Homo sapiens: one gene and its partner. The protein of the gene in region 1 interacts with the protein of each later gene in a pairwise test. Each region holds a gene or a part of one and is shown on either strand. Other genes may lie near its edges.

Evidence for each region. Proteins that work in one complex are often made in the same cells at the same time.
Region 2: the proteins of ENOX2 (region 1) and ZFP2 interact in a two-hybrid assay, tested with the Homo sapiens proteins (one large-scale study listed by BioGRID).

What each region holds. Positions count from the first base shown.
Region 1 is NC_000023.11:130,899,553-130,905,391, forward strand, and holds the start of ENOX2 (ecto-NOX disulfide-thiol exchanger 2), read right to left. Parts: upstream 3,658-5,839; 5' UTR 3,497-3,657; intron 2,180-3,496; 5' UTR 2,135-2,179; coding exon of another isoform or gene 2,132-2,134; intron 1-2,131. UniProt on the Homo sapiens protein: May be involved in cell growth. Probably acts as a terminal oxidase of plasma electron transport from cytosolic NAD(P)H via hydroquinones to acceptors at the cell surface.
Region 2 is NC_000005.10:178,930,313-178,933,712, reverse strand, and holds the end of ZFP2 (zinc finger protein ZFP2), read right to left. Parts: intron 2,477-3,400; 5' UTR 2,400-2,476; coding exon 1,014-2,399; 3' UTR 501-1,013; downstream 1-500. UniProt on the Homo sapiens protein: Probable transcription factor involved in neuronal differentiation and/or phenotypic maintenance.

The sequences.
Region 1 (5,839 bases):
TGCCTTGTGCGTGCATTCATGTATGTTGGGCAAGGGCTGTCGGGAAGGCTTCACAGAGGTGTTGACATATGAGCTGAGTCTTAAAGGCTGAGGAATTTCTTGCATGCCTAAGGGTCACAGATCATGGTCATATTCCTAATCAGTGCCTTGAATATTTGTGCTACTGCTCTCAAGGACACTGAGTAAGGTGGGAAGGATGTTTGTGTGTAATCCAAATCCACTCGAGTGGTAACTATAGCTTCCATTGTAATCTTAATGAACATAGAAACATAGCATGTTTTGGCAATATTATTGCTCACCATACAATATAAAGGACAAGAGGCAAGGGGGGCATGCAGACTTTTAAAACAATTCTGGTAACACTGACAAAATAATATTAACATCCACCAAGTCCTAATAATTTTACCTCCTAAATGTTTCTCAAATCTCTTCGCTCCGCTCACGTCACTACTCTTGGGTCTTTATTGTCTCTCTGTGGAACAGAGTAGCAGCCTCATCATATCCACCTCCACTGTATCCTTCCCACTGTCATTTTCCTTACAGTAAAAATCTGATCGTGGTGCTCTTCTAAAACATGTTAATGGTTTCTTATGGCCTACAAGCAGCACTTCCCAAATTTCAGTCTGAGTATTACTTAGTGATTTTTACCATATTCACACACAATGTGTACTATTACTACTTAATATTTGTCTTTAAATGAACTGAAAACTGGTTCACTTTCTATTTTTATGAAGTAAAATCCAAAGTAATCTTAGATGTGATGGCTTAGTTCAGTTTTATGTTTTTTAAGACATATTTGAACATGTAACTAGTAAAATTAAAATGTTTGTGGGAGCACAGTGTAACTACCACTGGCAGATGCCCTACGTTTTGAGAACCACTGACCTATGGGGGCACATTCCAACTTAGGATTGCAATCAAGGTTCTTTGCAAATCAGCCCCAACCTCTTTCCAGACTCTTCTCCTACCCATTACAGTTTCCTTTTACTCAACTATCTGCACTCCAACCATGCTGAATTCTTCCACATTGAATGAACATGCCCTACTCTTATACAGCCACACATCTTTCACAGACTGACTCCTCTATCTGAAATGCCTCCCCTCCACTCCTTCCCTGCCTGGGGCAAACTCACTATCCTTCAAGACCTATCTCATGTCACCTCCTCATGGAAGCCTTCTCCCCGAGTCTCCCTTACAGTGAGTCACACCTTCCTTTATCCCTCCATAGCATTTTGTACCTGTCTCTGTTATACTACACACTACAGTATCTCAGAACTGTGGGCATCCAGCTCCCCAGCTAGACCCCAGGAAGAGTTCACACCTTGTACTTCATTGTTTCTCCAACACTTCACGTGGGCAGAGGTCATGAAAGAGATCTAGTGTCCCAGGTAACTTCTTAAAATGCTAAAATAAAATACATCCAAAGTGCTATCAAGGTCCAAATAGCTTAGAGGTATGATATGTGTTATAAAGAGAATCATCTAATTCAGAAATAGCCGTACTGACTATGGTTTTGGCAGACACAATTAGCTACAGTTGCAATGACAGTTAATTTGGTTTTGGCAGCTACTTTACAGCAAATACATTCTGACATAGAAATTTTAAGTGAATCATTTGGGTTTTGGCCAGGATGATGAACTATACCTATCTCTCCTTACCACAACTGGAAAGTCAAGAACAAGAAAGAACATTGGGAGCAGCAAACCATGTTGAACAGAGCATGGGCTTTGGAGTCAGAAATCTGTACACCCAAACCTCAACTCAACTTATAATCTATGTGACTTTAAGTAGATTGTTTAACTTCTGTGCATTTTAGTGTTTTCTTCTAGAAAAAGAAACAGGAATAATAGTACCTACTTCATAACACTCAAGATAATGCAACAAAGTATTTATGATGATGACTAGGACATTATGTGGGTTCAATAAATAGCAGTCATTATTGTCACCCAATGAGATGACTACAGTTCAGATAATGTGATGCACGGGGACAGCAAATGCATTTCTTAAGAAAATATATCGATGTCTCTAGGCTTTAAAGTTGACAGCTATAGACTGTAGCTAAGAATAGCTACAAACAAAACATCTGCAAGACAAGCTTCTTCTTGGATTTAAACTCACACCTGGAACATACCATCACACTTCTTTGTGTTCTCCAAGAATTGATCTCAAATCAGGTTCCCTAGGATGAAAAGAAAAATCATCCAATCTTAATTTTTGCCTTCAATTTTATTTGATACAGAATAATATCCAAACTATGTGTATGTTTCAAAGTATCATGTTATTATGACCCCAAGCTTCTCCACCCTATTTATTTCCCAGTATATTTGTGCTGATATCTTTTATTCCAATCAGGCAAGCCCACCTGTCTCACAGTGCTCCCTCTTCTGTTTACCCTTCTCAAAGTCCAATCTCAGTAGCAGGAAGCATTTTCTCCCTCCTCTTTGACAACTTCAAATCCCCTGTACTCTGCTGGAGCCCAGATTAAAATTCACCTCCTTCACAAAGCCTGAAAGCCGGATGAGGGCTTCAGCACTTCCCGGGTTAGGCTTGAACTTCCATAGATGAACTCACCACCCCCATCAGTATGCTCTTCCACTGACCCCTCTTAGCGTTTTTTGCACACGTTTGTAATAATACAATGATTAATATGGTCTGTTTCACACGGTCTACTTTATTCTGTAGAATAAAGGTGTGCCCCCTAAATGTTTGTCAACATTAGTGCTATCAGTCTTTGCTGGAAACCCCTAAAGCGCTGGATTTTTATAACCAGTCTAACTTGCCTTTTACTCTCACCAGAACCCTGCACTGAACCTTAAACACACATTTCTCAAAAGCAAGATTCCTTCCCTCTTTTGCTTCCCATCCCTTCTAGAAATTGAGGGGAAACTCTCCCCACTTCAAAGACCTGGTGGGGGAAGTGGCAGGTGGCTGAGGGGCCAGTAAAGAGATGGCGATCAATTAAGGAGGCAAAAAGAGAAAGTTTGAAAAAAAAAAGTCACGCCCTGAGCGTGGCAAGGAATTCCCATGCCCCAAAGAAAATGGGGAGTGTAGCGCAGGGAGGGTTATGTGCCCAAACCTGAAATACAAATTGAGGGAAAAGAGGAAAGAGATCACCCAATTCCTGCGGTAAGAATTAGAGTCCAGTCACCGCCTAGGCAAAACCCTGGACGCAAACCCCAACTTCGGACCTCTGAGGAGGCACAGAGCCAGGGGGAGGGGGGCGGCGTCGTGGGAAAAAAAAAAAGGGGCGGGCGAGTTGGACCAAAAAAAAAAAAAAAAAAGAGCAAAGACAGCGCGCTCCCGGGCTCAAGAGAACTGGCGCCTAGAGCTCAAAAGCCCACCCCCGACTCCCAGTCCCGATACCCCCTCCCCTGCAGAGGTGGAGCTGGGTGGAGTTAGGCGCTGAGGACCGCGGCCCCGGAAGCACCCTCCTCCCTAGGCCCCCTCAGTCCCACAGTCCCCAGCCACGGCCACCGGGGCTTTCTGCCTCTCTGACCTCCAGCTCCCCGGCTACCGAAGCGCTAGTCCTTATACAGCCGCGGAAAATCGGGCCGGCGCGGCAGTTCCTGGGCTCGTAGTGCCCTCGCGGCGCCCCACGCCGCGCCACTCTCTTCCGAAATGCCCGCCTCGCGCTTCCAGGCCTAGACCCGGCACTCTGGCCCAAGGCTGGACTCTCACACACAGGGTGCCCACTGCGGCGTCTCCTATTGGCTACTGGTCACCGGGGAAGCCGGAGGCCCGAGCCCATGGCTTCATGGGAAATGTAGTTTGAGGTCGCTGGAGGCTGTTCTTCCTGGGGGTAACTCGTGTTGACATTGGCAGACAGACACAAGTGAGGACCGAGAATTATGGGAGATGGAGTTGCGGGACACTTATTTCTCTATACGCACAATTCTTCCCCTCCCCTTCCGATTGTCCCCAGCGTTCAGACGGGGAAGGGTATTCTGGGTATTGTAGTTTGGGTGCACTGTCTAGAGAATCTCTCTTGGGGTTATGGGTTTGTGCTTGTGGGGACAGACGAAGGCTCTAGATTTATTTTCATGTCGGTTAAGCTCTTAGCATTTTGCGGGAAGCACTTTCTATCGTGATTTGAAATTGTTATTGAGTTTTAAGTGTTTTTCAAAAGATGATGTTTATTCTTTGGTAAGCTTAGAATTTTAATTGAGAGTTATAGTCCTTTAAAATTGTTAAAGTGTGTTCCTTGTGAACCACCTGCATTAAAATCACTTGAAAGGTATGGAAGAATGTATATATTTTTTTCTAATTGGAAATTATAGTTCCCCCTGGAAACAGTGTCATAAATAGGCATAGAAATGTGATCTACACCAGCCCAGAAGAAGCCTATTTAATCCATAATGAAGCTATGTTGTTGCCATGAAAAACAGTGGCCACATAAACTGCTATAAATAACAATTTAGAACAGATAGACAATACAACTTAAGTACAAACGAGTAACTATATGTGTCTTTAAGAAACTTAACCTTTTGAGTAAAAATATGTTACAAGAGCTGGATAAAGACATAGGTGGGGAATGCCAAGCACTTCCAAGTGACTTAAAGGTTGAGGAAAATGGTTGTTTATTAGGGCTAATTTCACTCCCAACTTTTGACCTTTTTTTTTCTCTGTTAGAGATGAATCCTTGTAGCCTTGTTACAGTTGAATTACTACAACTTCTTGATGAGGACAACTTTTCGACTCACGAGTAAAATGAAGGGAAAGACAGGGGAATTGCATTTTGCTGAGGTAATTGCCCAATATTTTAAAAAGATAAGTGAAGGAGGAAGACGATTTAATAAATTCAACCATTTATTCAGCATAGTGCTTTGTGCAAAGCTCTGGGCTAGGCACTGTTGCCACAGAATTGGAAAAATAGTCCCTACCCTCAAGTAGCTCAAAATCCAGGTGAGGGGAGTTGTAGTAGAGGAGAATCTGGGGGGAGGAATAGATGAGTATACAATGTGCAAAATGCTGTAAAGAAGTCTACATAGGGTTCTATAGGAACATAGAGGAGGAAGAACTTGTTCTACTTCTGGAGAACTGGTTGAAGAACCAGTAAAATATTTGTCAGATTTGGGGCAGGGAGGTCAACCATATTCTATACAAAGCATATGCAAAGGCATAAAGGCATGAAAGAGTGCAGAGAACAATAGCAAAAGTTCCATATTGCAGAGACTAGATCAGGCAGCAACAAGGGGTCATATCAATTAGTTCATAATTTAACTTGAAAGTGGGAGAGAACCATCAGAGGAATTTTTGTGCTTATATAGTGTTTATTTTTTAAAGCATATACACATAGAACATACTGGGAACACATAGCTAGGGTATTATGGGGAATCATTCTGGAGGGTGGTAATTGAATTGCTATATTATGTTTTAATACTTTTTATACTTTTAAATTCCTCCAGGAAAATAATTTGCTTTTTTAAAAAAAGAAAAATCGGCTGGGTGCCGGGGCTCATGCCTGTAACCCTAGCACTTTGGGACACCAAGTTGGGAGGATTGCTTGAGCCCAGGAGTTCGAGACCAGCTTGGGCAACATAATGAGACCTTGTCTCTACAAAAAATCAAGAAAATTAGCCAGGCATAGTGGCGCATGCCTGTAGTCCCAGCTACTCAGGAAGCTGAAGCAGGAGGATCCCTTGAGCTTGGAAAGTTAGGGCTGCAGTCAGCCGATATTGTACCACTACACTCGAGTGTAGTGGGTGATAGAGCAAGACTCTGTCTCAAAAAAAATTAAAAAATTAAAAAAAGAAAGAAAAAAGAGAAAAAGAAAAATCACCTCATTTCAGCCATAAAAAGGAGTGAAACAAGGCATTTTCAGTATTATGGCCACCAGAAA
Region 2 (3,400 bases), on another chromosome or scaffold:
GCCTGTAATCCCAGCACTTTGGGAGGCCGAGGTGGGTGGATCACGAGGTCAGGAGATTGAGACCATCCTGGCTAACATGGTGAAACCCCATCTCTATTAAAAATACAAAAAAATTAGCCAGGCATGGTGGCAGGCGCCTGTAGTCCCAGCTACTTGGGATGCTGAGGCAGGAGAATGGCATGAACCCAGGAGGTGGAGCTTGCAGTGAGCTGAGATCAAGCCACTGCACTCCAGCCTGGGCAAAAGAGCGAAACTCCATCTCAAAATAAATAAATAAATAAATAAATGAAAACATTTGCATACTTATTCCATTAATTTATGGAAACCAGCCTGTAGTTAGGGGACAAAATAACAATGCAGGGGAAGATTAGGGGCATGGAAGGGTACTAGGAATTCGTAAAGGTAAATCATTTTGACTAAAAGGATCCAAGGAAACCAGATTGTGGAACAAGAGCATCTAGACTGCATACAGACAGCATAAGATCGTAAAAGAACAAAGATTTCCCAGCATTCATTATATTTATAGAGTTGTAGCATTTTAGAGCTAACAGAGCTCCTACAAGATTTCTAACTCCAAAATCATTCATTTACCAAATAAAGAACCATAACCTGGTGGAAGTAGGCAAGTTGTCCAAGGCAGTGGCAGATTAGGACTACATACCAGGTCTCTGGGCTGTCCAGTTAAACACTCTCACATTTTTCTCTCCAGTGTAAAGTCTCTGATAGCCAAAGGAGAATGTGCGGTATGATATAACAGAACTTATCTTCAGCATGACTCTTCATTGTTTATATTAGCTATTTAAACCTTCTGATATAAAGGAAATTATACATTCTGAATCAAGATTTCTCTACTTTTAGATGGATTCTCTGCAGTGGTATTATCTGATATGACATATTGTACTTCAACTGAAAGATTCCCACAATCATTACATTTATTAGGTTTCTACATTGTATGTCTCATATGATTATTACTGAAGAGTTAATCATGAGGTAAGGGCCAGTGAAAACATTCCTCACGTATGAGTTCTTTGATGTCGTGTAAGGTTTGTACTCCGGCTGAAGGCTTTTCCGCATTCATTACACTGATAGGGTTTCTCTCCTGTATGAGTTCTCTGATGCACTGTAAGGGATGAATTCTTAATGAAGGCTTTTCCACACTGATCACATTCATAGGGTTTCTCACCAGTATGAATTCTTTGATGTTCAATAAGGTAAGCACTCTGGCTGAATGCCTTTCCACATTCATTGCACTCATAAGGTTTCTCTCCAGTGTGAATGACCTGATGCACGGTAAGGGATGATCGTCCAGTGAAATGTTTTCCACACACCATACACTCATAAGGTTTCTCTCCAGTGTGAATTCTCCGATGTTGAGTTAGAGATGAATTCTTACTGAAAGCTTTTCCACACTCGTTACATTCAAAAGGTTTTACTCCAGAATGAAGTCTCTGATGTTCTATAAGATATGTACTTTGGCTAAAGGATTTCCCGCATTTGTTACATTTGTAAGGTTTTTCTCCAGTGTGATTTCGCTGATGTAGGGTAAGAGTTGAGCTCTTACTAAAGGCTTTTCCACATTGACTACACTCATAGGGTTTTTCTCCAGTATGGCTTCTCTGATGTACAATAAGATGCATGCTTTGACTGAAGGCTTTTCCACATTCATTACATTCATAGGGTTTTTCTCCTGTATGAGTTCTCTGATGAACTGTCAAATTCATGCTTTGGGTAAAAGCTTTACCACATTCATTACATTTGTAGGGTTTCTCTCCAGTATGAATCCTTTCATGCTGAATAAGAGATGAATTCTTATGGAAGGCTTTGCCACACTCTTTACACTGATAGGGTTTCTCTCCGGTGTGAGTTCGTTGATGGACAGTAAGATTCATGCTCTGACTAAAGGCTTTCCCACATTCATTACATTTATAGGGTTTCTCTCCAGTATGAATTCTTTGATGTACAGTAAGGGAGGATCGTTCAATGAAGTGTTTCCCACATACATTACACTTATAGGGTTTCTCCCCAGTATGAATCCTCTGGTGCTTAAGAAGGGATGAGCTCTGACTGAAGGTTTTGCTGCACTGATTACATTCATAGATCTTCTTTCCTACAAACATTCTTTGAGTTTTAATTAACTCAGAATTTTGTGTGGCATCTTCTCCATGTGAATTACAGTTATGGGGCCTTTTTACCATAGGAATGCTTTGCTGTGTATCAAGGATTGAATCCTGACTGGAACATCTTTCAAATTCATTACCTCCACATACTCTCATCTCAGTGAAGGTTTCCTTATGGGTAACTCCCACTTGGCTCAGATGACTATCCTGTTGTCCCTCTAACCAATTATTAGGTTCCCAGGTTTCCCCTAGAGTAGAATGCCAGATACCTTCCCTTTCCATTGTTACCCCATGGCATAAATCTTCAGTAATACCCGGCTTCGGAGTTGGCTCTTTGGTTTCAAGTCTTGTCTCCCAGTCTGAAAAAAAAAAAAAATTCAAATGCACATTGGTTTCTGTGCTAGGAGACTGGAAACTGCATAAGGTAGGAATGAGAGAATTAAACTAGCTATCAACTAAAATAACTGCTGAGCACATTTGAGAGCTTTCAAACATGTACCCAAAATTAGGTAGAGAAATAGGAAGGGAGAGAAACAACAGTGAACTGATCCAAAGATAACAGGGGAACTGAAAGCAGGGGATGGCAGATGTACTGCATAAGCAGAGAAAAGAGTGAGCCCATTCAGGAGGGATGGACAGTGAAGGCACTGACCACTGGAGTAGGCTACATAATGAAGATGGAACTAAGGAAACACATGCAGAAGAGCTGGGATTGGGAAAGGCAGATCAGGAAACCCTGCACACTGTACCTGGTATTCCTGCCAGAAGTTTCTTTCCTCCTACGAGGCCACCTAGAATCCTACACCAAATTAATCTTCCTAAAATGTCACAGTGTGACACAATGTAAAGATTGCTGACTCAAAGTCAGACAAACTTGGATTCAAACCGTGGCTCTTAACACCATCTTAACTAGTTACTTGTCTCACTGGCTCTGAGGGTCACAGATATAAAATGAGGATTAAGAAATATGGTCAAGCCCGGGTGTGGTGGCTCATGGCCGTAATCTCAGCACTTTGAGAGGCCAAGGCAGGCGGATCACTTGAGGTCAGGAGTTCAAGACCAGCCTGGCCAAAATGGTGGAATCCCATCTCTACTAAATACACAAAAATTAGCTGGGCATGGTGGCAGGCGCCTGTAGTCTTAGCTACTTGGGAGGCTGGGATGGGAGAGTTGCTTGAACCCAGGAGGTGGAGGTTGCAGTGAGCTGAGGTAGTACCACTGCACTCCAGCCTGGGTGACAGAGTGAGACTCTGTCTCAAAAAAAAAAAAAAAAAAAAAAAAGG